Linked DNA regions of Homo sapiens. The protein of the gene in region 2 interacts with the protein of the main gene of each other region in a biochemical or structural test. Each region holds a gene or a part of one and is shown on either strand. Other genes may lie near its edges.

What was found.
Region 1: of the proteins of PSMD4 (region 2) and BTRC, one has a biochemical effect on the other in vitro, tested with the Homo sapiens proteins (2 studies listed by BioGRID).
Region 3: of the proteins of PSMD4 (region 2) and NEDD4, one has a biochemical effect on the other in vitro, tested with the Homo sapiens proteins (4 studies listed by BioGRID).
Region 4: the proteins of PSMD4 (region 2) and NUB1 form a complex in vitro, tested with the Homo sapiens proteins (2 studies listed by BioGRID).

Annotation. Positions count from the first base shown.
Region 1 is NC_000010.11:101,524,291-101,532,545, reverse strand, and holds part of BTRC (F-box/WD repeat-containing protein 1A), read right to left. Parts: intron 6,534-8,255; coding exon 6,347-6,533; intron 1,310-6,346; coding exon 1,213-1,309; intron 252-1,212; coding exon 114-251; intron 1-113. UniProt on the Homo sapiens protein: Substrate recognition component of a SCF (SKP1-CUL1-F-box protein) E3 ubiquitin-protein ligase complex which mediates the ubiquitination and subsequent proteasomal degradation of target proteins. Recognizes and binds to phosphorylated target proteins.
Region 2 is NC_000001.11:151,263,940-151,268,440, reverse strand, and holds the end of PSMD4 (26S proteasome non-ATPase regulatory subunit 4), read right to left. Parts: coding exon 4,413-4,501; intron 3,610-4,412; coding exon 3,523-3,609; intron 3,276-3,522; coding exon 3,207-3,275; intron 3,048-3,206; coding exon 2,832-3,047; intron 2,438-2,831; coding exon 2,329-2,437; coding exon of another isoform or gene 2,320-2,328; intron 2,134-2,319; coding exon 2,002-2,133; intron 1,922-2,001; coding exon 1,854-1,921; intron 1,269-1,853; coding exon 1,098-1,268; 3' UTR 962-1,097; downstream 1-961. UniProt on the Homo sapiens protein: Component of the 26S proteasome, a multiprotein complex involved in the ATP-dependent degradation of ubiquitinated proteins.
Region 3 is NC_000015.10:55,835,748-55,844,002, forward strand, and holds part of NEDD4 (E3 ubiquitin-protein ligase NEDD4), read right to left. Parts: intron 6,417-8,255; coding exon 6,187-6,416; intron 4,981-6,186; coding exon 4,859-4,980; intron 4,771-4,858; coding exon 4,700-4,770; intron 2,858-4,699; coding exon 2,762-2,857; intron 2,434-2,761; coding exon 2,360-2,433; intron 2,103-2,359; coding exon 2,042-2,102; intron 1-2,041. UniProt on the Homo sapiens protein: E3 ubiquitin-protein ligase which accepts ubiquitin from an E2 ubiquitin-conjugating enzyme in the form of a thioester and then directly transfers the ubiquitin to targeted substrates. Specifically ubiquitinates 'Lys-63' in target proteins.
Region 4 is NC_000007.14:151,336,913-151,345,622, reverse strand, and holds the start of NUB1 (NEDD8 ultimate buster 1), read right to left. Parts: upstream 3,812-8,710; 5' UTR 3,777-3,811; exon of another isoform or gene 3,658-3,776; intron 276-3,657; 5' UTR 274-275; coding exon 157-273; intron 1-156. UniProt on the Homo sapiens protein: Specific down-regulator of the NEDD8 conjugation system. Recruits NEDD8, UBD, and their conjugates to the proteasome for degradation. Isoform 1 promotes the degradation of NEDD8 more efficiently than isoform 2.

The DNA.
Region 1 (8,255 bases), on a different chromosome or scaffold from region 2:
AAATCTTCACTTACTTTCTAGAAATAATGCTTAGAGTTTATGCTTTAGACTGCGCTATGAATGTGGTCACTCTTGCTCCCTCTGCTACCTTTCTACAACTGAATAGACCTCACCTTGATTGTGTTGTCTCGAAGGCCGCTTACTATTTTCTGATCATCATACTGTAAACAGTAAACTCCTTTGCTTGTTTCACTTCGGCAGTGAATTCTCTGTAAACTATGTCTTCCACATCTCCAATTAGATTCTATTGTCTGAGAAGAAGGAATGGGAAAGAGGCAGTGTTAGGAAACACCTAGAATCAAACTCTTTTTAGGCTTTAATGACAATCAATGGCTCAATGCTTTACTCTATGGGATATACACAACTTAGGGAAAACTAAAAAATGTCTTTAAAAGGCTACTATCTATATTTATAAAATATTCTTCCTTTTGCAAGGTAATTAAAGGTTGTTTCCTAGAACTTCCCTGCCTATAATTTGTTCAATTAAATAATAAATCTGGTGGAAAGAGACTACTCATCAAGAGAAGAAAAGCTACGAACTACGTGAGGTTATACACTCAGTGCTCTTACATATGTGATGGCCATTGCTACTGATTGCTACTGATGAACTTCTAAGGAGGTTCAATTCAGAAGATATTTAAATATGAGCTTATGAGTACAAGTTTACCAGTCACACTGCTATGTATGAAGGGATCAATCTCTTTAACTCTCTCATCTACTTATTAGTAAACCATTTTTTAAAGCTTTAAAATTTTGCCTAGCAATTTATTTTACCTACCCTACTCGCCTGTAAAGAGATTGATTTTCTTTTCCTTTTCTTTTTTTTTGATGGAGTCTCGCTCTGTCGTTCAGGAGGGAGTGCAGTGGTGCGATCTTGGCTCACTGCAACATGTGCCTCCCAGGTTCAAGTGATTCTCCTATCTCAGCCTCCTGAGTAGCTGGAATTACAGGTGTGTGCCACCATGCCTGGCTAATTTTTGTATTTTTAGTAGAGACAGGGGTCTCACCATGTTAGCCAGGCTGGTCTCAAACTCCTGACCTCAGCCTCCAAAAATGCTGGGATTACAGGTGTGAGCCACCATGGCCAGCTAAGAGATTGATTCCCAACTCATGTCAATAAACCTTAATGGGCTTGCTGTAACCATACTGTGACTGAAGAATGCTGATAATTCTGTGCCCTTGGGCAATACCCCAAAATACATAGATTCTTACCTCAATGTCTTGTATAATTTTAGGATAAAGTGCTCTATAAAAAGAGTTGGGAGGAGCATTCCCGTCAGGAGGTTTGTTTTTGAATAAATACTGTCCCCTAAAAAATAACAAATATTTCCCAGTGAAAATCATGACATTATATATTTAAATACATATATATTTTGAGACAGAGTCTCGCTCTGTTGCCCAGGCTGGAGTGCAGCAGTGTGATGTTGGCTCACTGCAACCTCCGCTTCCTGGGTTCAAGTGATTCTCCTGCCTCAGCCTCCTGAGTAGCTGTGATTACAGTCATCTGCCACCATGCTGGCTAATTTTTGTATTTTAGTAGAGATGGGGTTTCACCATGTTGGTCAGGCTGGTCTTGAACTCCTGGCCTCAAATGACCCGCCTGCTTGGCCTCCCAAAGTGCTGGGATTACAGGCGTGAGCCATCACACCCGGCCGACATTATATATTTATAAGGAACTTCATATATTTTGAAAGTGTTTTCACGGTTACCATTCCATATACTCTCCATAGCTGTCTGCGGAGGAGCAAAGGTAAGCCTGATTTCAGGAGTCCCATGTCAAAGAGTAACCTTCTGGGCTCTAAAGAATCTGACCAACACTGATTTGCTTTTGGGTAAAACATGATTATTTCCAGTGTAGAACATCGGAGTACCAAGCCTTTAGGAATATTATAATATCAGTAAACAAATGGAATATGTACAATCAGAATTCATCTATTGCTCTATTAAGACTACTGCTTAGATTCACTGGCCTCATCTTTTGGAAATTTTGTTAGTAATGGTAACTATTACCTTTGAACTAGCACATGCCCTATAGGTTTTTTTTTTTTTCCCTTTTACTGTGTCAGTGGTCCCCAGCATTGTAGACAGCAGCAATGCCTCTGGCATGGAGATCACTTTTGCTAGGTCTTTATTTGTACAGGGTAAGGTGTGGTGGCTGCTCAGTCACCCAGGCTGCTGCTAATCAGTGCAACTATGCTTTGAAAGGAGCAATTCAGTTCATTTCATCAGAAAACAAAAGGATCACAGGTGTGTCCAGCAGCAGCTAGGGAAGAAGAAAAAAAAGAAATGCCTAAGAGCACTGCTATCAAGTCTAAGGCATGAAACTGACTTTCACAGGTGTGTTCCTGGCTGTGTACATACACATGTACTTAACTGCCTTCCCTGATTCCAGTGAGCAACATTTGTTAGTATCTCCTTCCTTATGACAGCACATCTCTGGAATACTCGTATCCCAAGCTAGATCTTTGCTACAAAAAAAAAATCAGTAAATGGCAATCACTTCCTGCTGGGTAAAAAATTTAATTCCTCATCCGGAAGTTAAGAACCCACCAAACACGGTGTGGAAGCTAGTAAACCCCACTATGGGTGTACTAACTGCTGTTCTCACTGGCACCGTGCCTTGCAAAGTGGAGAGAGGCAGAAATGCCTCTGAGTGTAATCCTGGCACCAGAGAAATCATGTTTTCTCTGGGCCAGTCATCCACTCCTCCCTCTATAGCTCCATTACAATATAATTAATTGTTTGGTGTCTCCAGGAGTGTTTCTCCCCTGCCCTCTCCCTGTTATATACCCTGAAAATTAGTTGAGAAAATTTCCTATCAGGAAGGTAGATGGCTCTAACTTCTGTGTTAATACAGAAAAGAAAATCTGAAATAGAGAAGTGAAAATAATACTTATAAAAAGGGGGATTAATGAAACATGATACACCAGCATAAACAAAAGGGGAAACAAGATGCGTTATGAAAGAATTCCAGATTAATGGTACATTTCTCTGTACAATATTATTCTACAAACACTTTGCAGGCAAATAATAGATTTTGAATGTGAAGATTTTAAGTCTGACTCCTGAGCCCACCCACATTCTTAACTACTTTATTGTTTCTCAATGCCCACCATTCCTGAGATTCCTGTCTTCTTTTAATCTCTAGCACTCCAAGACTTTCTTCCTATGCAATGATACTATCTACATTCTAAGGAAAGAGAACTCACATAAGCTTCTGATCTTGTTTTCCACCTCACTGCATTTACCATGTCTTGGTAAAGTATCTGAATTTCTTCAAATCAAAGTGTTACAGAAAGAGGTGGCTAGGTACTGAAAACTGGCTTCTGTCTTTATGTTTTAAGTCAAAACCTTTTATGATGGAAGATCTTTGAAAACAGGGACTACTTCTATGTGAAATGCCTAGTACCTACAAGAATGTGAGTACATGATAAACGTTAAATATTAAATTCAGAATGTTATCATAAAATGTGATCTGCTGATTAAGAAAATTGACTTTTCCCAAGTGGTCTTTTATTATACTTTTAAGAGTTACCATTACTGAGCAGACAGCATATTCAGTATTATTCAAGAGAGAAAACTACAGAGTTCATGTCCCAGGGGAAGACTGTCAAATCCATCTAGATATAAAATACAACATCAAATACCAAGTTAAAACTTAGAGATAAAAGCTTTATTAGAAAACTGTATTTACTTACTATTTTTGGTTAGTAGAAATGGAAGAACCTTTCAAAGCTAGCATATGGGGAAAAGTATAACACAGAAAGACTTTATTGACGTATTAGGCTTGGTAAGACAACTTGAAAGAAGAAAATGAGAAACTGATGGAGTAAATTTTTTTTTAAAAAAGGGAAGAAAACTGACACAGGAATAAAGTCAACATGTAAAAACAGAAGCAGCAACAAGAAAGTCGAGGGAATAATGGAGGAAGTTGACACGGGATGTATAAGTATTTGGAATTTCATGGGTTTATCATGGGATTAAGAGGATAAACATGCCCAAAGACAAGGGGATATAGTCAGAACTCTGAAGGATACTCAAAAGAGCGGGAATGGGTTTCTGTGGATAAAGAGATAGGGGAAAAAAGTGGTAATTAGTGCTGGATCCTGGATTACTTCACCTACCCTTTAGAAAGGCTCAAAAGCCATCTTCTCAATGATTGTTTTTTCTTTGTAACTAACATAAAAGATCTTGCCATTTAGTGCCAATCCCAAGCAAAACTGTGGAGCCTTTTACCTTTGGCATTTTCACATCCATCTGCCAAGAACTGCCCACTTACTTCTTGATCTTTCTGCCTTCAAAAAAGGACTCAGTAAACTCCCAATTTATGATGAAGGTTTACTGTCATTTACAGTCCAAATGGGAACACAATGTATTTTAACAGGTAACAGAACCTTTATAGCTAAAGGAATGAATCTCCTTAACTGAAATTTCAGGAGTTATTTGGAGACGAGATTCTTTTTTTCTGAGGGATACAGAAATCTTCTCAGCTGCCCTAAAATTTTCTCATGTAAGCAACTGCCTGCTGTATCCCCAAGGCTGGTCCCAGCACTCTTAGCAAAATGATGGACCCCGAATACCATATAACTCCATTTTTATTTGCTTTGTTGTACTATTAAAGAGTTTATTTCCAAAGTATGAAGTAGGTTATGAAAGATTTCTATTTTTCTATGTAGCGAAATAAGAATTAAAAAACATATTTGAGAAGTAGTAATAATATTCTTTTGTGTGTGTGTGTGTGTGTGTGTGTATGTGAGAGAGAGAGAGAGAGAGAGAGAGAGAGACAGAGAAAGAGACAGGGTCTTGCTCTGTTGCCCAGGCTGGAGTGCAGTGGCATGACCACAGCTCACTGCAGCCTCAACTTCCCAGACTCAAGCCATCCTCCCACCTTAGCCTCCTGAGTGGCTGGGATTACAGGCATGCGCCACCAGGCCCAGCTAATTTTTTGATTTTTTTGTAGAGATGAGGTCTCAATATGTTGCCCAGCCTGGTATCAAACTCCTGGGCTCAAACGATCCTCTTGCCTTGGCCTCCAAAACTGTTGGGATTACAGGCGTGAGCCACCCCACCCGGCCAACAATATTCTTTGTTACACAGCCTAAAAATTGCCTAGTTTTTTTGTTCCTTTAATTCAATTTGAGAGAAAAATTTAAACAGTCTTCCTAATAGCCAGAATGATAAAAATCTGAGGCATTTGGTATAATATTTATAGGTCATTGTATTTATTATGTGTTAATAAATTTCAAAGATAGAAAAAAAGAAAGAGAGCCAACTACTTTTTCATGAAAATTCAAAGGAAAGCTGGCCCATGAATATTTATCTTTTAAAAGTGTTCTCTACTTTTAACTGTTTTCCTCTTTATGATCCAAGATAAACAACTGATAAAATTAATTTGGAAGGACATCACTAAGCACACACATGCCTATTATAATTTTTTCTGTCAATGAGAATATTTAATATGTCACCTTTATTTGTGAACTATTACTACGTAGCTTTCCTATAGTGACATTCTAGAGACATACTCTGAGAGAAAAGTATTTAAAGAAAGATATCTTTCAGAAGTTCTAATGAAATAGTACTGTTAAGAGAACAACAAAAAAATTAGTGAAGTCTCTTAGACTGCTAACTATATGATGCTTTGGGGAATTCGGAATTAAGTCAGAAAATCTTGAAAAACAGAAGTCTTAAGAAGAAACAATGATTTATACTTAATTTCATTTTCACTTTTTCTGATGGCTAGAGTTCTTATTCCACTTGGGCTTAAAAATAATTTTTGATTACAAAGGTGACAAAACACCAGAGGCATAAGATAAAGGCAAGAAATTTTCTGAAAGAAACCTAGGGTTCATGCGATTCTCCTGCCTCAGCCTCTACAGTAGCTGGGATTACAGGTGCACGCCACCATACTCGGCTAAATTTTGTATTTTTAGTAGAGTTGGGGTTTCGCCACGTTGGCCAGGCTGGTCTCAAACTCCTGGCCTCGAGTGATCTGCCCACCTTGGCCTCCGAAAGTGCTGGGATTGCAGGCGTGAACGCACTGTGCCCAGCCACAGGATACCAACTTCTGCCCAGATAACAGAATGTTTTAAACAGGAGGGCTGATCAGCTTTCCATTATTTTTTGCAAAGCAGTATTAATACAATATCATGTCATTTTGTGAGTGACAGGTAAGAAGAAAAACTGCTGAGTATATGAACATTTGTTCTCTGTTACATTTTAAGCTAGAAATCAACAAAATCACCATATTAAATGAGAAGTGGTCTCATTGGCTCCCCAAAAATCTTTCAGTGACTGTGAATGGCCAGGTCCTGAAGCCGTATAAGAGTAAGAAAAGTTAAAGGCTCACCATCCTCTTCGTTCTGCCAGGCCTCTCCACAGAGAATCTGTCCTGACCATTCTCTCGATAAGCTTCTTCCACAGCATGCCATCAGAGGTCACTCGGTACCATTCCTTGCACACAAGTTCAGCAGCACATAGTGATTTGGCATCCAGGTATGACAGAATGTTCTCAGCAATATGATCCAATCCCCGAGCTTTCAGTAGGGGGAGGAGGCAAAGAAAAAGAACACAGAAGGTGGCGAATGATTTTTTACAAAAGGTCCTTTAAAACAGAACAGCATTTGTTCTGCTATGAAGGCACATCATTGTCCCTAGTGTGGTCCAGTTTCTTTTTCAAACAGAGGCTTGGGTAAAATGAGTGTCAATAATTTTTCCATAAGGTTACAGAAATGAACAGTATTTTCCATCTTCCTTTAGATAAGGAAGTTAAAGCTAACAACCAGCAAACCCCCCAAGACATTAAAAATAAAAAGGATTCCAGAAAACAATTCACATCTATCTATATGGATTTCAGCACTAGGGGATGTTCTATGGATGGCATCTCAAACTCTATGATTCAGACCCCCCCAAATCTCTATATTAGGTCCATTTCTCATTCTGTTTCTATTACTGCTGTAGTTCCAAAGCTGTTCGGTAAAAGAAATGTCCTTTAAATGTACTAGGGGAGAGGCACTAAGTCAGAATGTGCTGGGTTATAGAATTTTGGGCATGCAGAAAGGAGAGAAGAAGGAAATACAGAATGGCATGGAAATATCCCAAGAGAAAGACAGAGATGTATGTTTAAGTTCAAGAATGGGTTTAATTTCAGATTTAAAAAAACTATATTTGAGAGTAGCTGCTGCTATAAAACCTAAATGACAGTTGGGCAAAAATGAAAAAAAATTCCAGACCAAAAGATAACTTGGTTAGCATTTCAGAGAATATTTTGTAGGAGGTGCAGAGGAAAACAGTGGAGAACAGATCTTGGGGAGTGTAAACCAGAAGGGCTTCCCAATTAAAGTTCTCCACCACCCAAATCTGTACTGAGGTCTCAGAAGAAAAGATCCTATAAAATAGGATGATCTCACTAAAAAAACTTCTTTTGCCTGCTGTTCTACATTTACAACTGAGATAAAAACATTCAAAGTTATTTCTGTTTACAAAGTACATATCAGAGGTTTTCTACAGACTTAAATAGTTCAGAAGGATTCCTTCATACTCTCACTCCCGTAGGCACAAACTTAACAAGAAAGAGAACATGGCATTTCATTTTGGGCCTTTCCCCTGAATCATATCATTTTAATTATAAAGATTGTATGGATATCAGTCACACTTTTCAGCAGACTTGAGAAAGAAAGCATTAAATGGATTTTGTTTGGCTGGCATCACATGTTCGTATGTAAGCATAAGCAGATGGAGACATGCATTACCCAATTCTTATTAAAGGAACATGAACAAAAGCCAATTAAAGATATAATAATTAGTTCTTCATGTTAAATACAGTAATGGTACAATTTATATTAAAACTTTCTACACCATCAGAAATTTCCAAAATGCAGTCCTGTGTTTTTAATGGGTGCCATCAAATTGTTCCTGATCATTTCACCATGTACCTATAAATAAGTCTTTGGAAGTAATTTCACCTAACACTCCAAACAAACCCATTACATTAATGGACTACAGGCACTTTTTGAAGTAGTTTGGTTTACTAAACATAGCCAGATGGTATATAGGTTTATAAGTTTAAATGGCCATAAAGCATTAGATTGATGATTTAATACCTCATAGAGTGGTCAGTGGATACAAACCAGGGATCAATATTAGGTAAAGGATACACAGGTCTAATCAACTCCTGTTCAATTCTTAGTGGTATAAGCTTGAGATAGTAACATGTCTCAGTGACTGGGGAGAACAAAGTAATGAGGTACACACAGACT
Region 2 (4,501 bases):
AATTCTCCTGCCTCAGCCTCCTGAGTAGCTGGAATTACAGGCGTGTGCCACCACACCCGGCTAATTTTTTTTCTATTTTTAGTAGAGACGGGGTTTCACCATATTGGTCAGGCTGGTCTCAAACTCCTGACCTTGTGATCTGCCCACCTCGGCCTCCCAAAGTGCTGGGATTACAGGTGTGAGCCACCGCACCTGGCTGAAAAAAAAAAAAACTTTAAAAAAAATTATAAAGGGAATAGATGTTCCTTGTAAAATAATATTTAAACCGTATAATATAAAGTCTCAAGGTAAGGTTACTTGTAGAGTGGATTTTATGCATGTACACTGAGAGGAAAACGCCAGCAGGGTGTTTAGGACAGCAGAGACTCAGGAGACAGCATAACTGATGCAGGGAGGTGCTGGCAGGAGGGAGGGAGCCAGAACTTCCTGCCTCACGGCCTTGACTCTCTGTAAAGATGTCAGGCTTCTGTTGAGAGTGATCGGGGAGTAGAGGAAGGTATAGTAGTTGCTACAAGGAACTGACTTGCAGGGCTGAGCAGAGTCACTGAAGGCAGCTGACCAATGGGAAACTACTGTTTGGTGGTGATTCAACTCCTGGCGAGACAGGTCTGAGACAAGTTTGGATTTTGATCCTGGTTCTGCCTCTTCATTAGCTAAATATCCTTGGCCAAATAACCTAAACTTGCTGAACCTCAGAAGTCCACATGAAAAAACTGAAAAGGTTGAGTATCATTCCATGCTTGGGGTTCAGCTGTGTGAGTGCAGAGTAAAAGTTATTGGCAAGAAGGTGGTTTAAATAAGGTCTTCGTTCATTAGAAATGGAAACCTGGCTCCTGGGCCTGTAATCCCAGCACGTTAGGAGGCCCAGACAGGTGGAAACAGAGACATAGAGAACTCAACAAGGAAGGTTCTCCTTCAGGCCAGGGACTCCTCCCCTCTCTCACACTCAAAACCATCAATATTTGAAGCAAAAAAGGAAAAAAAGTTGCCAAGCTTTATTTAGGCTGTAATGGTTACAGATAACACACATCTAACCCTATATTCCGTGCTTCCCATGCAGTCCCCTAAGCAGACTCAGCTACCCTTTCCCTCCAGTCTCACTTCTTGTCTTCCTCCTTCTTGTCCTTCTTGCCGTCCTTGGTGGCCTGGGAGGCCAGGGAGCCCATAGCATTTCGAATGGCTTCATTGTTGGGATCCACACCTGGGAGGTTCTCTAGGACACTCTGAAGGAACTCGGGGTCCTGCATCACGTCGTAATCATCCTCCTCCTGCAAACAGGCAGTGTGAGCTCAAGGGAGGGTATGGAGCGGCAGGAAGTAAGCAGGTGTTAAGGACAGGAGCATGCCGCTGCCAGAGGCCCCCTGCCTTCTGACTGTGTGGGGATCTGGGCACCTCTGGTCGACGTAAGGAAAGGACAAGTCAGCAAAATCCTTTATACAGCATGAATGCAGTTATTACTAACCAAATAGAGGGGCCTGCTGAGAACTCTGTTAATTGAGCTCTGAGGAGAAAAACAGATGCCATCACATTGAGGTTTCCTGCTCTCAAGACACCCAGTTCTCCTTTTTCTTTTTCCCAGACCCGCTTTTTTCCCTCCTGGGAAGACATCCTAGAGAACTGCCCAGGCTGCTCCCACCAGCAAGAAAGGAAAATTACAGAACAAGAGGACATTTCTCCAACTCTGACCATTAGCATTGCTACCTTAGCAAGGTTTACATGTAAGAAATGCAAATCCATGTGTTTCCCTCTGCTCCTCAAAGGACTTAGCTATGGTAGAAATACTCCCAGCCCCAGAGGGATGAGGATCTAAATTCAAGGACTTTAAACCTGATGGGGGCAGGGTTGGGTCTCACCTTGGCTGGCTCAGATGTGTCCATAGCTGAGCTGGCATCAATGTCTGCTGATTCCGCCTGGCCAAACTCTGAGGAAGAGAGGTCAGTCTGTTCAGTTACACTTCCTCACCCCAACCTCTGCCTAGGCACCACCCAGGCTCTGGCTCACCTGCTCCCTGCAGGGACATCTGCATGGCATAAGCAATCTGCTCTTCCTCAGTCATACTGCTTAGGTCAGGAAGCCCAGTGCGGCCAAACTCTTGCTGGCTGATGGTCATCTTCAGCAGGGCATCGTCTGAGTCTGGGAAAAGGAAAAGAGGAGCAGGGTAGAATTGGTGCCATATCCACACAGGCCAGCCTCCAAGGCCATTCCTAGCCCAGCCCTCCCACATATTCCTACCCTGTCAGACCTCCACACTCTCCCTGCAGTGCCTACACCCAGCTTTCAATGTTTAGCATCCCGCAGTCCCAGGACTTCGGATTCCACCTCTTTCACCTTCAGTCCCAGTCGTAGCAATCCCGGCCTCAGCAGCAGAAGCTGCAGCTGCCCGCCGGGCCTCCTCCTCCTGCCGCTGCCGCTGCTCTTCCATAGATACACGAAGGGCCTGGTGAAGGGCAGGGCATAATCAGGGCTCCCCTGCCCTCACTCCTACAGGGAGCTGGGAAAGTCAGTTGGGGTGTGGGAAAGGAACATAAAGGGGCAGCTTCTGGTTTATCACACAGAGAAGAAGCTGGAGGGATAAGCAGTGGTACGGGATTAAAAAGTAAGGACTTGGGAGAAGCCTCGGTTTTCATCAGAAGTGAACAAGAAAGCATCTGACACTGGTGCCCCTAGAGATCAGACAGCATTATAGGGAAGAGGCGGCAAAAGGAGGTCTTGGAAAATGAGTGATTGGTAGTGTCTAGGACTATCCAGCCTGATAGAAGCTCTGTGATGTGTGTGCCAGAAGAGAACAAAGAGGGACCTTTGGACTCTACCTGGGGTCAACATTTGCTCACCAAGGCCAGCTCAGGATCAGCACTGGGATCTACTCCAAATTCAAAGTCACTGGCACCAAGACCCAGCATGGCACCACCTTCACCAGCCAAAATCGGAGAACTGATGAGAGCATCAGCCAAACTGGGCCCAGGAGGCACTGTCACCAGATGAGAACCGGTTCCATCTTTGCCATTCAACGTGTTTACAAAGGCTGTCAGCTTTTCTGTGTTCACCTCCTGGGGAGGAAAGAACACATGATGCCCTTCTTCAGGCCTTGCTCCCTGTTCTTTCCCATTTCTGCACTACTCTGCCACAGTACCCGCACTCCTCAGGGTTAAGGACCATTCTGTTTATGACCAAATTAAGTCAATGCCCTCCAATCAGTCCCTACTCACCTCTTCCCCAAAATTGATAATGTCAACATTTACTTTCTCCTTCTTGAGGCGTTTAGCCAGTTTCACCAGCTGGGAAGAAGGGGAGAAAAATCAAGAAATCTGTTCCATACTCGAGGGGGGGAAAGGACCCGCCGCATAAAAGCATACAGAAATCTATTGACCTCCCCAAGGTCCTCCAACAGAATCACTGAATTCTCCACATTCACCTTTCCCCAAAGTGATGAGCCTGATGCCTCTGCCAGGTTCTCCTGAGGGCTGGAAGACCTCAGTCCCAAACATGGGCTCCCCACATTCCCCAGCTGCCACTTGGACTCACATCCTTCTCATTGTCCTCCACTGGGCTTCCCACAAAGGCAATGATGCGCATCTTGTGATTCTTGCCTTGTCGGTGCTTCAGAGCCAGCTTGTAAAGGGAGAGGAAGTTCTCAGAGTTAACCAGAGGAATCACTCAGCTCTTTCCTCTGTCACTCGGTTCCCTTTTTCTTACAGTTTCTTTGTACCTGAAGTACACCATCTACCATCACGTTCACACAAGATTTAACACCCCCACCTCCTCCCTTTTTGCTATGACTCTCTGTGCATAAAGAAGGGAGGTTAATTCTCTTTCTCTCTTTTTTTTTTTTTGAGATGGAGTCTCGCTCTGTCGCCCAGTCTGGAGTGCAGTGGCGTGATCTCAGTTCACTGCAACCTCCACCTCCCGGGTTCCAGCGATTATCCTGCCTCAGCCTTCCTAGTACTGGCTAATTTTTATATTTTCAGTAGAGATGGGGTTTCACCACGTTGGCCAGATTGGTCTCGAACTCGTGACGTCAGGTGATCTGCCCGTGTTAGCCTCCCAAAGTGCTGGGATTACAGGTGTGAGCCACCGCGCCCGGCCTTTTTTTTTTTTTTTTTAGAGAAACAGGGTCTCCCTATGTGCCCAGGCTGGTCTTGAACTGCTAGCCTTCAGCAATCCTCCTCCCCTGGCCTCCCAAAGTGATGGGATTACAGGCATGAACTACCACGCCCAGCCTTAATTCTCAATTCTAGGGATTTTTCCCTTCACAACCCTCAACTACCCTGGGATTCATCCCCCATATCCTTTCTACTCCAAGTTAGCTTTCTCTTGCTCTGGTCCTAGCTCAGGATTCCAGGGGAGAAATGAGTATGATGGAGGCAGGACCTCAGAGCAGGGAGGAAAGGTCCAGGGAACCCAGTAGGACTCACATGGGCCACGCGGATGCCCGTGCAGAAGGTGATCTTGCCCTTGGGTTGGACAGTATGTAGCTTGGACAGGATACGGCCAGTGTCTGGGG
Region 3 (8,255 bases), on a different chromosome or scaffold from region 2:
TCTCACCAAGATTACTGTAGCACTTTCCCAACTCTGCTGGGAAGTCTCTGCTGCTAGTCTGGCTCTCCTCTAACTTGCTCTACATAGCACTTCCAGAATGATCTAAAACATAAATTGAATCTTGGTGTCTTATTGGTTAATAGCCTTTAATGCTACCTTCCTTCTCCCTCATTGAAATTCAGAGAAAACTCCGAACTCTACCACTTCACACACAGGCCCTGTATAAGCTGGTCTGTTAGCTCCGCAGGCTGATTGTTTCCCTCTTGCATTCTCTCACCCAGCATACTCAACTGCCTGTGGGTACAGCCTACCTTATTGCCAGACTTCACACACGCTGCTCCTGTTGCTTAGAACTGCATTTCCCTCTTCTCCATGGTTGGCCAATCCCTCTAGTCCTTCTTTGTCCCTTCCTTTGCCCCTCCCTGGTTTGTACTTCTCTTCTGTGCTCACCTAGCACTTTATGCTTGCCTCTGTTCATTTCACTCTTTACATCATACATACCTTAATAACAGGACCTATGTCTTTTGGCCTGGTACAGCACCATACACATAGTACTCAATACTGAATTTATGAAAAAGTATGTGACACACACACACACACACACACACACACACACACACACACACTTTAGAGACAAAGTTTCACTCTGTAGCCCAGACTGGAGTGCAGTAGTGCCATCATAGCTCATAGCTGACTGTAGCCTCGACTTCCCAGGCTCAAGTGATCCTCCAGCCTCAGCCTCCCAAGTAGCTGTGACCATATGCACATGCCATGACACCAGGCTAATTTTTTTTTTGAGACGGAGTCTCGCTCTGTTGCCCAGGATGGAGTGCAGTGGCGTAATCTTGGCTCACTGCAACCTCTGCCTCTCAGGTTCAAGCAATTCCCCTGCCTCAGCCTCCCGAGTAGCTGGGACTGCACGTGCACGCCACCACGTCCGGCTAATTTTTTTGTATTTTTAGTAGAGACAGGGTTTCACCACATTAGCCAGACTAGTCTCAAACTCCTGACCTCAGGCAATCTGCCCACCTCGGACTCCCAAAGTGCTGGGATCACAGGAATGAGCCACCGCGCCCAAATTTTTAATTTTTTATAGAGATAAGGTCTCCCTATGTTGTCCACGTTGGTCTCGAACTCCTGGGCTCAAGCAATCCTCCCGCCTCAGCCTCCTCAAGTGTTGGGATTTTAGGCGTCAGCCACCATGCCCAGCCAGATACATATTTAACAGAAGATTGTAAGTTAGCTTAAGAAATGAGTGCTCTGACAATCTGTCTACCAATTGGAAAAATTTAAGTAACTTTTTAATTTATATTCTGAATAAAATATAGCCACAAAGAAAGGCAGCTATATGTCGTCACATGTAAATATCCCTAATAAATATCTGATAAAAGAAGAAAGTAGGCCGAGCACGGTGGCTCACACTGGTAACCCCAGCACTTTGGGAGGCCAAGGTGGATGGATCACTTGAGGTCTGGAGTTTGAGACCAGCCCGACCAACATGGTGAAACCATGTCTCTACTAAAAATACAAAAATTAGCCAGGCGTGGTGGCGGGCACCTGTAATCCCAGCTACTCAGGAGGCTGAGGCAGGAGAATTGCTTGAACCTGGGAGGTGCAGGTTGCAGTGAGCCGAGATCACGCCACTGCATTCCAGCCTGGGCGACAAAGTGACTCACTCCGCGCTCAAAAAAAAAAAAAAAAGAAGAAAGTAAGTCACAAAACAAAATGTGTAAGGTGATCCTATTTAGAAAAACAAACAATATGTTATACTATCCCTAAAGCACTCTTGTTCTTTTGCTGTCCTAAAGTGAAGAGAATGGAATAGGGAAAAGGCTTGGGGGAAAGGGGACCTGTCCATGTTTATTGTCTAGACTTCTTGAATGACTGAATGGAATATTTAGTTAATATAAAAATATAATTTAGAATGATTTCACAAAACAAGCCATATACTTATTTTTCTCAGATGTGATGAGGCCTAATATTTGAAACTTATAGGTTATACTGTGACATTATGGAAGAGCAAATAAAAGAAAATGAATACCTCTTTAAAAGCAGCCATTTGCTTCTGGATTCGGTTTACAAATCGCCATTGTATTACAAGACTAAAAAGAAACAACATTTCATTTTCATGTGAACCAAGACAAAATTCTGAGGCACAATTATTCTAGTTAGAAACAAAAACTAAAGGCTAGCTGAGACCAAGGTAAAAGCTGAATATGAGTGCTTGCTACTGCATTGTGATAGAGAAAAAGAACACTGAGATTCTGGACAAGGGGACAGAGAAAGATGGTAAGAAGAGTCTTTCTGGAATAAAGTACAAAATTATATCCAATAAAATACATACTAATAAAATACTTACTAAATATATTCCTTTTTGTTCTTATTGGTGACAACTATTTCTGATCCACCATTTTTCAGCTCATGTTGATGTGTCTAAAATTAAACACAATAACTTGATATGTTATTTTAGCGAGAAAAATTTAAAAAGTATACATATTGTAGTTATACGAGAAACTTGGTGTTTTAAATTAAGTCCAGTCAAAAGTTAAAAACTAAGAAAACTTAAAATACTAGTTTTACTAAAATAAATATGGAACGAGTCAAATGTTAAAGAAAGTACAAATTCTTGCTCAGAGACAGCTTTTGTTACTGGGAAATGAATGTAAAAACAGAGCCTAGGAATGTATTAAGTGTACGTATTAACATCTAAACATTTGTCTCACAATTTATGTGCCATTTTAACTGATCAAAATTCACAAACCTGTCCAAAAAGTTCTTCATCTATGATAAACCTGAGGTCCAATTCTGTTGGGTCATTTTCAAGAATCCATCTTAGGGAATTGTAATATTCACTATCCTAGATGGGAAAAATTACATATTTAAAATTTGTATCTATAACACACCTGAAATTGCAAAAAACAGTATGTAGAGGGTCTGAATAATTGGGTAAAAGATGAGAGGTCAGATGGACATCCTTTACTTACACACATATATAAACAAAAATGTATGTGTGTATGTGTGTGTATTACAAAAAGAGATGGATGACAGGTAAGGGCAAGAGTAAAAATGCATCAATCAATTAATCAATTGGTGCCTACTTAAAAGTTTAGAATCTATGTTTATGTGGAAGCAGTGGAGGTACAGATTTTATCATCCAGTTAAAGGAATGAATACAGAAGTTTTCAGATAAAACCTAACTTCTCTGGATATCCAGGAGCACTTAGCACATTCCTCATATGCCTATGTGACTTCGTGTTAAATGTTTTATTTTTATTTTTTAATTTAATTTTTTTTTTTTTGAGACAGGGTCTCGCTCTGTCCCTTAGGTTGGAGTGCAGTGGGGCGACTGTGGCTCACTGCAGCCTCGACCTCCTTGACTCAAGTGATCCTCCTACCTCAGCCTCCCAAGTAGCTGGGACTACAGGCGCGCACCACCACGCCTGGCTAATTTTTGTATTTTTTGTAGAGACAGAGTATCACCATGTTGGCCAGGCTGGTCTCAAACTCCTGACCTCAAGTGATCCACCTGCCTCAGCTTCCCAAAGTGCTGGGATTACAGTTGCACACCCCTGTGTCCGGCACTAAGTGTGAAATGTTTAAGTAGCTATGAGGAGGCCATTGTTTATACCCAGCCCGAGTTAAAGAAAAATCTCTTAATAAATATAGAGGCTCAATGAACCAACTCAAGTAACTGTGCAATCTTATGATTTATAAAGAATCACACTGTTTGTGCTGTTAATATGTAATAAGAAAAGAATAAAAAATGAACTTGGTACTAAGGAAGATGCCCTGGAATTCATGTGAACACACATTGTGTGAGGCTATTCAGCAGCACAGGAAACAACACGGCTACAGTCCGGGGTTTAATCCTTGGGCTTCTGTTTTTTTCTAGGAACCTAACCATAACGCTTTGCCTTTCGACTGCCATTTAAAAAATATACACCATTTGGCCAGGTGCGGTGGCTCATGCCTGTAATCCCAGCACTTTGGGACGCTGAGGCAGGCGGATAACGAGGTCAAAAGACTGAGACCATCCTGGTGAACACGGTGAAACCCCGTCTCTACTAAATATACAAAAATTAGCTGAGTGTGGTGGTGCGCGCCTGTAGTCCCAGCTACACAGGAGGCTGAGGCAGAGAATTGCTTGAACTTGGAAAGCAGAGGTTGCAGTGAGCCAAGATCACGCCACTGCACTCCAGCTTGGCAACAGAGTGACACTCTGTCTCAAAAAAAAAAAAAAAAAAAAAAAAAAATATATATATATATATATATATATATATATATATATATATATAACATTCATCATAAAAGATCATAATGCAAATACTGATTCAAAAGACATATAACTTGGTATAACCTATTGAAGTATTTAGTGGGATGTTTAATGTTATCTATAACTTACTCTGAAATGCATGAAGAAACTAAGACAGACTGATGGATAGACAGATAGGTATGTGATAAAGTAAATCTAGAAAAAAAGCAATTGTGAGTAGTTGATATACAACTGTCCAATGTAAAATTCTTCCAACTTTATTATATGTTAGAAAATTTTCATAATAAAATGTTGAGGAAAAAGTTCATTTGTATTTTGAAACATGATAATATATTAATTTCCATGTCATTAAAAGCAAATTCTTCAAAATGTTCAAGCTGCTTGTTAAATTATACTTCGTCTATACTATAAGTGAAAAAGACATACCACAGATTCCATATCATGAAGGGTTATTGGTTTGTGAAGCATCATCTTGTAAAATGGGCGGATGAAAAAACCTTGCAAAAAACCAAATACATTTAGGATGATTACCAAGTGAAAGAAAACAGGTAATTATATTGTAAAAAGTTTATACTTAATACTAACCATCCAACAGTTTGCCATGATAAACTGCCATTCCAGCTACCCGACCAATAAACTTGAAGTAAGAGAGGTGATCTTCGTTACACAATCCAGAGTTTGGATTTATCTGTAGGGTATAATTGTCCCTGTAAAGACAACCCCATTTAAATACTTCATTTGAAAAACTTTAATATGACAAATAATTACAAATAATCTTCCTCCTTTAAGAGTTGTTTACCACTGTTAGAACCACATTCCTCCACTGGATTTAATGGTTTTAAAAATAGTAATTTCTGTCAAAAAGTGGAAATAACCCAAATGTCCTTTGGCAGATGAATGTATAAACAAAGTTTTGTTTGTTCGTTTGTTTTTGAGATGGAGTCTTGCTCTCGCCCAGGCTGGAGTGCAATGACACGGTCACAGCTCACTGCAACCTCCGCCTCCCAGGTTCAAGTGATTCTCCTGTCTCAGCCTCCCAAGTAGCTGGAATTACAGGCGCCCGCCACCATGCCTGGTTAATTTTTGTATTTTTAGTAGAGACAGGGTTTCACTATGTTGGTCAGGCTGGTCTTGAACTCCTGGCATTGTGATCCACCAGCCTTGGCCTCCCAAAGTGGTGGGATTACAGGCATGAGCCACCACGCCCAGCCTAAACAAAGCATTATATGCAAAAATAATGGAATATTATTCTGCCTTAAAAAGGAAGGACATTCTGATACATACTACAACATGGATGAACCCTGAAGACATCATGTTAAGTGAAATGAGCTGGTCACAAAAAGACAAATATTGAATGATTCCACTTATGTGAGGTACCCGAGGAGTCAAATTCATAGGGACAGAAAGCAGAATGGTGGCTGCCAGGGAATGGGGAGCGAGTGCTTACTGGGTATAGGGTTTCATTTTGGGAAGATGAAAAAGTTCTAGAGTTGGATAGTGGGATGGCAGCACAACAATGTGAATGTATGTAATGACTCTAAATTGTATATTTAAAATGGCTAAAATGGTAACTTTTTTTTTTAGAGGAGTCTTGCTCTGTTGCCCAGGCTGGAGTGCAGTGGCGTGATCTCGGCTCCGCCTTCCGGGTTCACGCCATTCTCCTGCCTCAGCCTCCTGAGTAGCTGGGACTACAGGCGCCCGCCACCACGCCTGGGTAAGTTTTTGTATTTTTAGTAGAGACGGGGTTTCACCGTGTTAGCTAGGATGGTCTCGATATCCTGACCTTGTGATCCGCCCGCCTCGGCCTCCCAAAGTGCTGGGATTACAGGCATGAGCCACTGCACCCGGCCGACTCTTACTTTTAAAACAGTGATTTTTCTTTTTCTGCCGATAATCATTGTAAAGGTACTTACGTAGCAGAATATTCAAACAACCCATAATAAGGGTTAAACATTTCCTTTGAGATCAGGAAGAACCATTCTCTGGCAACTCCTCCATAATCCAATCCCTTTTCACCATCAAACTCAATCCACAGTCGAGCCTTCAGGAAGTCTGCTCTCTTGACACCCATAATTCTCCGGTAAGAGTCTTCAAGAACAGTTGCTCGGCGAAGTTTCATTTCAAATTTGTTTGGAATGTCATTCTGAAAATCCAGAGGAGAGACGTACTGTTTAAATCAGTTCAACATAATAACAAACCCATCTCTCATAAAGTTATAACATTCCCTCTACACCCTGTGTCCAAGTCTCTTTTTCCTTACGTAATATACTCAGGGAAAACACAACTAGGTATATTGTCTTGGTTTCCTCTATGGTATGAGACAGTTTCTGCATTTTCTTTAATCACTTAGTAATATAGACTTCTTTACATCTGAAGAAGCTTTTGTTTTTGGAGACAGCTCTGTAGTCCAGGCTGGAGTGCAGTGGCGTGAACATGGCTTACTGCAGCCTCGACCTCATGGGCTCAAGTGATCCTCTTGCTTCCGATTCCTAAGTAACTGGACCACAGGCGCATGCCATCATGCCTGACTAATTTTTTAAGTTTTTGAGGTCTTGCCATCTTGCCCAGGCTGGTCTCAAACTCCTAAGCTCTAGCAATCCTCCCGCCTTGGCCTCCCAAAGTGCTGAGATTACAGGCATAAGCCATGGCACCCGGCCTAAAGAAGCAATTGATGGTGATGGTAATGCCCCCATGAAGGCATTTCGTTAACAGTCCTTTTCATATTAAGTTCCAATGAACACCGTTCTGTGACCTGTAGGATAGCCACTGCCTGCTAGCTGTTGTGCCTGTCTGTTCAGGCTTTTCCCTACCTCTACTTTCCTCCCTGGAGTCTATCTTGCTTCACTCATTAACAGATGGTGACATTTACAGACTGTGCCAGTGATATATTCTGGCTGTGTCCCTACCCAAATCTAATCTTGAATTGTAACTCCCACAATCTCCATGTGTCATGGGAAGAACCTGGTGGGAGGTGATTGAATTATGGGGGCGGATCTTTCCTGCACTGTTCTCATGATAGTGAATGGGTCTCACGACATCTAATGGTTTCTATGCACAAGCTCTCTCTTTGCCTGCTGCCATCCATGTAAGATGTGACTTGCTCCTCCTTGCCTTCTGCCATGATTGTGAGGCCTCCCTAGCCATGTAGAACTGTAGGTCCAATAAACCTCTTCCTTTTGTAAATTGCCTGGTCTCAGGTATGTCTTTATCAGCAGCATGAAAACGGACTAAAACAGCCAGGCATGGGTACCCTGGAATGGCAGGTTAACGTGTTTAACCTCATAACAACACTATGCGAAAGCTACTATTATTGTCTTCATTTTACACATAAAACTGAAGAAGACGACTTAAGAAAGTCTTAGCTCCTGAGTCTGTGCTCTTAATTAATGGAGCTACATTGCCTCACTAATCTTTTGTACGTTCTTTGCTTATGTGACAAATGTACACAACTATGCTTTAGGCAGAACTTATTGTAAATTTTACAAAAGATATATCTAAATATTTTATTCCTCAGTACTTCATGGGCAAATTTCCAGGGGAAACCAGTAAGAGAAAACATGCCATCAATATTCTGTCACCTCCAAAAAAGAAGGTTAGCTCTAAGGAAAAAAAATCAATTTCATTCTCAATTTATTTAGGGAAAATGGAAAGCCCTATAGAAACATAATAATGTAAGCAGTTGATATAAGCAATATAAGCATGATATGAGCAGTTTCCTATACTGCTTATGTCATTAAAAAAATGGTAAGCTTGCAGAACAGCAACTTTAGACTGGATACTAGGCAGCTGGTGCAGGTAAGCATTTATCAAAGGCCTACTCTGGGCCAGGTGGTATTGTAGTAGGGCCAACGATGGGGAATAAAGGGAATAAAAACATAGGGTAAGATGTCCTTGCTTCCTCAAGGAGTTTCTCATCTGGCGTATATGTGAAAAACAAGTGTAAATGATGCTAATTCTGAGACTTAAAATAGGAGGACAATTG
Region 4 (8,710 bases), on a different chromosome or scaffold from region 2:
AAGGTTGTCAGTTCCTAGTAAAAAGTGGGTACCCGCTCACCACTAATGCTTTTGGTTATGCCAAAAGTTTATATGGTCATGCCTGACAATTCAGAATCTTATTTACCAAGGAGATTTATAATGCTGCTAATTATTGATGTCTTAAAAGAAAAATACCTTTAATGCCAAACCAACTTTTTTATTTTCATCTGTATATGGAGGTTTCCAAAGTTGAATCCTGTCTTCCCTTAAAAACTGGGTCAATTTTGCTTGAAGATATTTCTTTTGTGCCATCCCTGAAAGCAAAACAATACATTAATAAAACTCCACATCGCATTTTAAAATGTTAATAACTTACCTACATGTTAAGGTGCTTTGTTGGGTAAGCAAAGCTCCCTTCCTCTGTCATTAAATATAAATTACTATGGTTTAAATGAGCTCCAGACTTCTCTAAAAATATATATAGAAATATATGTTCAATTATATATATTACATATATAAAATATGTATTTCAAAGTTGCTAATATGTAGCAAGGATTATTACATGTTTCTATTTCTTAATCTGCTATTCTCTTATCTAAGAGAAAAGAGAAAATAAGAGAAAGATAAATCCCTCGAGTCGTGAACTTCTTTTTTTCTTTTTTGAGACGGAGTCTCGCTCTGTCGCCCAGGCTGGAGTGCAGTGGTGCGATCTCGGCTCACTGCAAGCTCCGCCCCCTGGGTTCAAGCAATTCCCCTGCATCAGCCTCCCTACTCACTGGGATTACAGGCATGCGCCACCACGCCCGGCTAATTTTCATATTTTTAGTAGAGACGGGGTTTCGCCATGTTGGCCAGGCTGGTCTCGAATTCCTGACCTCAAGTGATCCACCCACCTTGGTCTCAAAACGCTGGGATTACAGGCGTGAGCTTGTAAATTCTCTCATACTTTGGCTAGTTTAACATAAAACAAAAGGCCAACCATCCTGGTAGTTAAATATAAAGAAAAGCTTGCTTGAACTGTAAACTATCGATAATAAATATTTTCGGATGGGTGTGGTGGCTCAGGCCTGTAACCCCAGCACTTTGGGAGGCTGAGTTCAGGAGCTGAGGTCAGGAGTTCGAGACCAGCCTGGTCAACATGGTGAAGCCCTATCTCTACTAAAAAAAAAAAAATATATGAACAATTAGCCGGGCGTGGTGGCAGGTACCTGTAATCCCAGCTACTCGGGAGACTGAGGCAGGAGAATCGCTTGAATCCAGGAGGCAGAGGTTGTAGTGAGCCGAGATGGCACCACTGCACTCCAGCCTGGGCAACAGAGTGAGACTCCGTCTCAAAATAATAATAAATATATAAATATTTTCTATGTCAGAATTTTTTAAATTAAAAAGATTACAATACTAGGAAAATTTTGCATATTTTCTGATTAACAGCCTAACAGCACATCTACTTTTTTTTTTTTTTTTTTTTTTTTTTTTTTTTTGAGAGGGAGTCTCACTCTGTCGCCCAGGCTAGAGTGCAGTGGTACAATCTCGGCTCACTGCAAGCTCCGCCTCCCGGGTTCACGCCATTCTCCTGCCTCAGCCTCCCCAGTAGCTGGGACTACAGGCGCCCGCCACCACGCCCGGCTGATTTTTTGTATTTTTAGTAGAGATGGGGTTTCACCGTGTTGGCCAGGATGGTCTCAATCTCCTGACCTTGTGATCCGCCCGCCTCGGCCTCCCAAAGTGCTGGGATTACAGGCCTGAGCCACCGCGCCTGGCCCTACTATTCAAATCTAACACTGATCGGATCATTTTACAGCTGAGAAAATTAGGGCCCTGAGTTTGTACCATGACTCAGGCAAAGACACAAAATTAGGCAGCATCTTAACGAGCACAACTTCCACCCACAACACTGGACTCTGAACTTCCGTCATGGAGTCCCTTGCTGCTTGCCTGTTCCAGGTATGTAACTTCTCTCTCCCAGAGAAGTATGTACCGCGATGGAGCTGTCTACTCATCCCATACTAGCACAGCAATTCAAAGGTGAGTGAGGCGGCTGAGATGTAAGGCAGCTGGCAGGTGTAGCACAGCGCTTTAAGGTTTCCCAAATCAGACAAGCAATAAGTAAAGAAAAATGTTATTAGCCCCTGAATGATGAAGACAAGTTCTAGAGAGTGGAAAAAATATGAGTTAATATTACCAAGATAAATTTCTTTCTTCTATTGAGGGCCAGTATTCCACATCCCCCCAAACCCAATTCACACAACTTTGAAATCTTTGAAAACTTTGGTAGCTTGTGTATTTCATAAACAAATATTTTTTAAAAGAAAGTTCAAATCTATTTTATGTCAGTGCGGGGACAAGAATTAGGCTAATCAGGACAGGGAGGAGAAAAGAGAGGAAGGAATAACACAGCCAATGAGGCTGCTGTGTGCAACCTGGGTGGCCCATGGGAGAATCCTCCATTTTTCAAGCACTGACAAACGGCTTATCACAGCAAAGCATATTAGTACTTAGAGCGTTAGCTTTTCAAACACAAATAACTTTAAAAACTACTTTACATACTACTCATGAATCTTCAGAAATTCTGAATAAAATATCACAGCAACCCTACTGTCTCCCCACTGGGGGACAGTAATTTCACAGGCTGGTTACTGGAGCCAAGCAATTTGAAAGGCTGATGCGGTACTCAGAGATGCCATCCAAGGCCGGGCGCGGTGGCTCACACCTGTAATCCCAGCACTTGGGAGGCCGAGGCCAGTGGATCACCTGAGGTCAGGAGTTCAAGACCAGCCTGGTCAACATGGTGAAACCCCGTCTCTACTAAAAAAATAAACAAATAAAAAATTTTTAAAAAGATGCCATCCAAGCCACCACTTGACAGAAGGACGAAGGAGTGTTACAAACCCAGTGCGTGTCAGACACTCCAGGGAGCAAACAAGAGCTCCAGGGTTACACCGAATAAGATTTAATGTTAAAAAAAAATTAAACCACTGTCTTGAAACTTAAGGAACTTCAGTTATAGACAACAGAGTAAGTGGCGACATATTTTAAGTCAAGTTTAATAAGTCAGTTTTTAATTTTAACTGAAATGAGAACTGAAAAAGTTTCATGCATGCCATACAATGTTTCACATTGTAACTAAGAAAAGACGAAACTCATTAATATCACTCCGTGGTCCAAGCAGAAAGTGAAACGTTATAACGATCCTTTAAAAATTTCACTTTCACTTTTGTAATGAATCGATCATTGCTACATTTAGCCACACCTTTTCAAGTATACATTATATATAGTTGAAACACAACTATATCTAGTCAAGACACATTCATTTTTTCTTAGGAAAATGAAAGATTCTTGATTAAAAATAAAAGGGAAGGAGGTGAGAATGATAGAATCAGGTCGTCAAGGTTCGAGAAAATCAAGTGTCTTGTCATTAAATAGCAAAGAAAATCTGGCTTTGATTGCAAATAAATCCCAAATGGTATACTCGGAGTGTTACGATTCAAGTATAGCATTTGGCTAATTTTTTATAGACATATTTATTCCTTTCTCTCCCCAAACCGATACACTCAATATTTTCTTTTAAATACCCCACACCTCTGCCTAACTCAGGGCAAACCAAAGGGCCCCGAACGGCCAGCGCGTCCCGAAGCCCGGCCCACCGCTCCCGGCCCCGGCCCCGGCCCCGGCCCAGCTCCACGCATGGCTGCTCACCCCCGCCCCGCGGCCGCTCCACCCCTGGCCAGGAGAGGTGCCCAGTCGGACCGGGAACCGGGGCGCCAAGCAGTGCTGCTGAGGCTGGGGTCGAGGACACTCGGCCGCCGTGTCCTCACCTGCGCCACGCCACTCCCGCCGCGACCAGCAGAGTGCCCGGATGCGGCAGCGGCCGCCGTTTGTTTTCATTCCGGGTGAGGCCAGCCCCGCCCCCGCCGCCGCTGTCGCCTTCGCGCCGCCGCCGCCGCCGCCGCTTGGAAAGAGGGTTGTGGGCGGGGCCAAGGCGAAGCCAGCTGTGGGCGGGGATACGGTTGTGTGGGCGTGGTTACCGCGGGGCGGAGCCGCGACGGGGCGGAGCTAAGCGGAGGCGGGGCTGGGCGAGGATGTGGCCGTGTGGGGCGAGGACCTGGGAGTTGGTGTCCAACGCCACCCCAGGCTCAGTCTTCCAGGACTTCCCGCCCGGGCTCAGTTTGCCAGCCATCAAGAGGAAATGGATCCTGGCTTTGTTTCTCCAGAATCCTTGAAAGAGGCTGGGGGAAGGGTCGGGACCGTCCCAACCCGCATCTCATTCCTCAGCCTAGGCTGGACCCCTTCCCTAAACCAGCGGCTTTTCACCCCGCCCTCCACAAGCCCACCAGGGGCTTCCCTGGGGTGAAATTAGGCTGCTTCCCGGGAATTTCCTCCCCCATGCTGTCCACGGCCACTAGGGACCACAAGGCCTAGGGAGCTCTGCCTACTTCCAAGGTCCTATTCCCAAGGCTGTGCTCAACAGTGACGCTTCTATTTTATTATCAGTTATTGCTGTTAATCTCTTACTGTGCCTAATAAATTAAACTTTATCGTAGGTATGTACGTATGTATAGGAAAAATGAAGTGTGTGTATATATATAGTATATATATATGTGTGTGTATGTAAAATGGGGTGCAGTACTATCCGAGGTTTCAGGCATCCACTGTGGGTCTTGGGACACACCACCTGTGTGTGGACGAGAGGGGACTCCTGTAACCTTGCAGTGACCAATCCGTTTTTCGTTCCCTGTTGCTGCTTTCTTTAGCCCTTTTCTACCTATAAAGCCCACCTCCTCTGCCCAGCTCGTTGGAGCACCGTTTCTAAATTTTCAGAGAAGATGCCATCCTGATTCATGAATCAATAAAAACCAATAGATCTTTAATCTAAATTTGTGGTAATTTTGACTTCTGACAAAGGGATATTAATAACTGTATAACCGCACCAGACCAATCTGATTCGCCTTTTATATACCCAAGTTGTGAGTTGTTTTTCAGTTGCATGGACTCCCAGATGGAAGGTTTCGCACGTAACCTGAGGATGCCCAGGTGAACCAAGCATGCAACCAGGGGCGGAACCTGAGTGCTCAGATCAAAGCAGGGACTGAATTAAGAAATGGGCACTGCATGGTGAGATCCAGAATGCAATCAGATCAAGCCCTGGTGTCACCCCATGGCAGGGTCCAGTCAGATGAGCATCCCAGCATCACCTCATCGCAAAATCTAATCCGATCATGCGTCATTACCCTATGCTTATAAAACCCAACCCAGCCCCAAGCTCAAGGAGACAGAGCTGAGGGTTTCCTCATGTCTCCTTGACAGTCAACTCACAATAAAGCCTTTCTTTTCTCAAAAGCCCGTGCCATGGTGTTGGCTTCTAGCACATCAGGAAAAAGCCCGTTGATTGCTCAGTAGCAATTGCAGCAAGGTAGAAGGACAACAGAAACTGTTCTGACATTTTTTTCTGAGGGCTTTCTCTGAGATGAGTAACAAAGATAGTTTCACTTTTACATTTACGTAGTAGACCATCAGGAAATTGAATGTCCACGCTCAGGTGTGATGGAGCAGCTTGCAGTAGACCAAGGCTCCCACTAACAACAACTAGAAAAGCCAGAAAGCGAAGTCAGAAAACATCTGTTTGAAGGCAGTGAAAGCTGCTGAGGCAAGAATGGGGGGACTTGATATTCCAGAGAATGAGGAACCTTCAAGGGGTGAGCTAATGTCTGCAGTGGCTTGTATTGGTGTGTGAGGGCTTTTGCCAGTTCTGGATACAAGCATGAGGCTGAGAATTTAGACTTTGAGACCACAGAGGGCCACTGCTGGGGACACAAAACCAACACAGCGATGTAGGGGGAAATTCCAAGGACAATTGCTGAATTCAAGGCTTGTATGGGGCAAGAAACTGAAATGTAAATGGAAGGCCTCTGAAAGCAGAAGTTTTTGATAGACTTGCAAAACAAAGATTCGAGTCTGAGATCTGCTAGGGTGGTGGTGGAAGTGGGTTACTGCAGAGCCTACACCATGTTCCCAGTTGGAAACTGGAGGGCAACGGTAGCTTGAACCCTACCAGAACCTCAGCCCAGCCTTCACTCCATGCAGTCCCTGATTGGATTAAGGTTATTGGCCACTCCTGTCTTTGGTTTTGTGGAGGAAAGGGAAAAACCCTCCTGAGAGAATGATAACATTTGAAGCCTCTACAACTTTTTAGAAGCTATATTTGGCATCTCATTAAAAAGTTACTAGATAAAAAAAGAAAAAGACAATAGAAACAGACCCACAGATGAGTCAGATATTGGAGTTGCCTGATTAAAATAACTCTGATGAACATTTTCAAGAAAACAGAAAAAAAGATGAAAATTTTCACCTGAGTATTGAAATCTATAAAAATAAATCAAATGAAAACTCTAGAGGTGAAAAGTGTAATAAATGAGGCTGTGAACTCTGGATGTTAGACAAAACTAAAGACACGATTAGTGAACTGCAGGCACATCAATAGAAAATATCCAAACTGAAGCATAGAAGGAAAGAATGGAAAATACAGAAACAAGCATTAGAGACACATGGGACATGATGAAAAGTTCTACCAGGTATTCAGGTTTCTAGAAAAAGAGAGAAAGGGGCAGAAACAATATTTGAAAAGATAATAACCAAGAGTCCAAGTTTCGCAAAACTGATGAAAGACATCAAATTACAAATTCTGTAAGTTCTATGACTCCTAAGCAGGATAAATACAAAATCAGCCACACCCAGTGCATTCTAGTAGAACCATTGAAAACCAAGGAAAAAGATAAAATCTTAAAAGGTGCCAGGGCCAGGTACGGTGGCTCACGCTAGTAATCCCAGCACTTTGGGAGGCTGAGGCAGGTGGATCACCTGAGGTCAGGAGTTCGAGATGAGTTTGACGAATACGATGAAACCCCGTCTCTACTAAAAATACAAAACTTAGCTGGCTGTGGTGGAGGGCGCCTGTCATCCCAGCTACTTGGAAGGCCGAGGCAGGAGAATCGCTGGAACCTGGGAGATGCAGGTTGCAGTGAGCAAAGATTGCACCATTGCACTCCAGCCTGGGCAACAGATTGAGACTCCATCTCAAAAAAAAAAAAATTAATTTAATTTAATTAAACAAAAAAAAGGTGCCGGGGAAAAGATGCATTGCCTTTTAAGATTGTCAGCTGACTTCAGAAACAATAAATCCAGAAGACAATGGAATGGCATCTTTAATGTGCTAAAAGAAAATACACATGTTTAGTTCAACGTTCCTTAATATTTTAGGCAATAAGATTTATTGAGAACACAGAAATGGTGCAGACTTGTGCTTTTATCTTTGTCATGCATATGTGATGTCTTCTGGAATTAAGTTTAAAAAAGCAAAAGAAGTAAGTTATTCTGGCCTCCCATGGAGGTTTCTCAGATGGTAAGCCTACAGTGATGAGTAGCCACCTTCTTACTTCCAAGGTCACCTTAGTTTTTATTCACCCTTAAACTTAAAGTCACATGACTAATATTGTATATCGAATTCTTTTTAACATTAAAAGGGGTTAAAAAACAAACACGGATAAAACACAAACAGATGATCCTGAACTTAATTCAGTAGTACTAATACCACGGATTTATTTATTTATCATCTCTCTCCTTATTTTTTTATCTTGTTAGAGTAAGTGTATCACCTACCCAACTTTTTTTTTTTTTTTTGAGGCGGAGTCTTGCTCTGTCACCCAGGCTGGAGTGCAGTGGCACAATCTCAGCTCACTGCAAGCTCCGCCTTCCGGGTTCACGCCAATCTCCTGCCTCAGCCTCCCAAGTTGCTGGTACTACAGGCACCCACCACCATGCCCGGCTAATTTTTTGTATTTTTAGTAGAGGCGGGGTTTCACCATGTTAGCCAGGATGGTCTCGATCTCCTGACCTCGTCATCTGCCCGCCTTGGCCTCCCAAAGTGCTGGGATTACAGGTGTGAGCCACCGCGCCCAGCTGCACCTACCCAACTATTGAGACAAATGAACCTGGGTTAAAAAATTTGGACCAGAATATGTCAGAGATTCAAAACCAGAACACAAAATTTGAGGACTGATTACATGCTTCCAGAATGATTCTACCTGAATCACAGGTGAGAAGGCCAAGCCCTTTCTCACAGTGACTATGGCAACAGGAATTCATGACCTCCACTGAAATAAGGCATCCTAGCCCATGTTTCCTAGGAATCAGAGTAATCCTCCTATGCAATGACCTTGTAACTTCTTTTAGCTTCTATCATCTGTTTGGGTGATTGAAATTCTGGATTCCCAATCAGATGTGAACAACTTTTCCTCACCACTAACTTGATTTCTCTTTCTTCCATGTTCTTCATATCCAACTAAGATGCTGAATAAAATTACTATGTCTCCAAACAGCATGTTAAAAAATTATTTATGGGCTAGGAGCGGTGGCTCACGCCTGTAATCCCAGCACTTTGGGAGGCCAAGGTGGGCAGATCACGAGGTCAAGAGATTGAGACCATCCTGGCTAACATGGTGAAACCCTGTCTCTATTAAAATACAAAAATTAGCTGGGCGTGGTGGCGCATGCCTGTAGTCCCAGCTACTTGGGAGGCTGAGGCAGGAGAATCACTTGAACCCGGAGGCGGAGCTTGCAGTGAGCTGAGATTGCGCCACTGCACTCCAGCCTAGTGACAGAGCGAAAATCCATCTCAAATATATATAATTTATGACACTTGTTAAAGAAGGCCATTCAAAGAGGCCATGACAATATGTATAGGGACCCCTGCAAC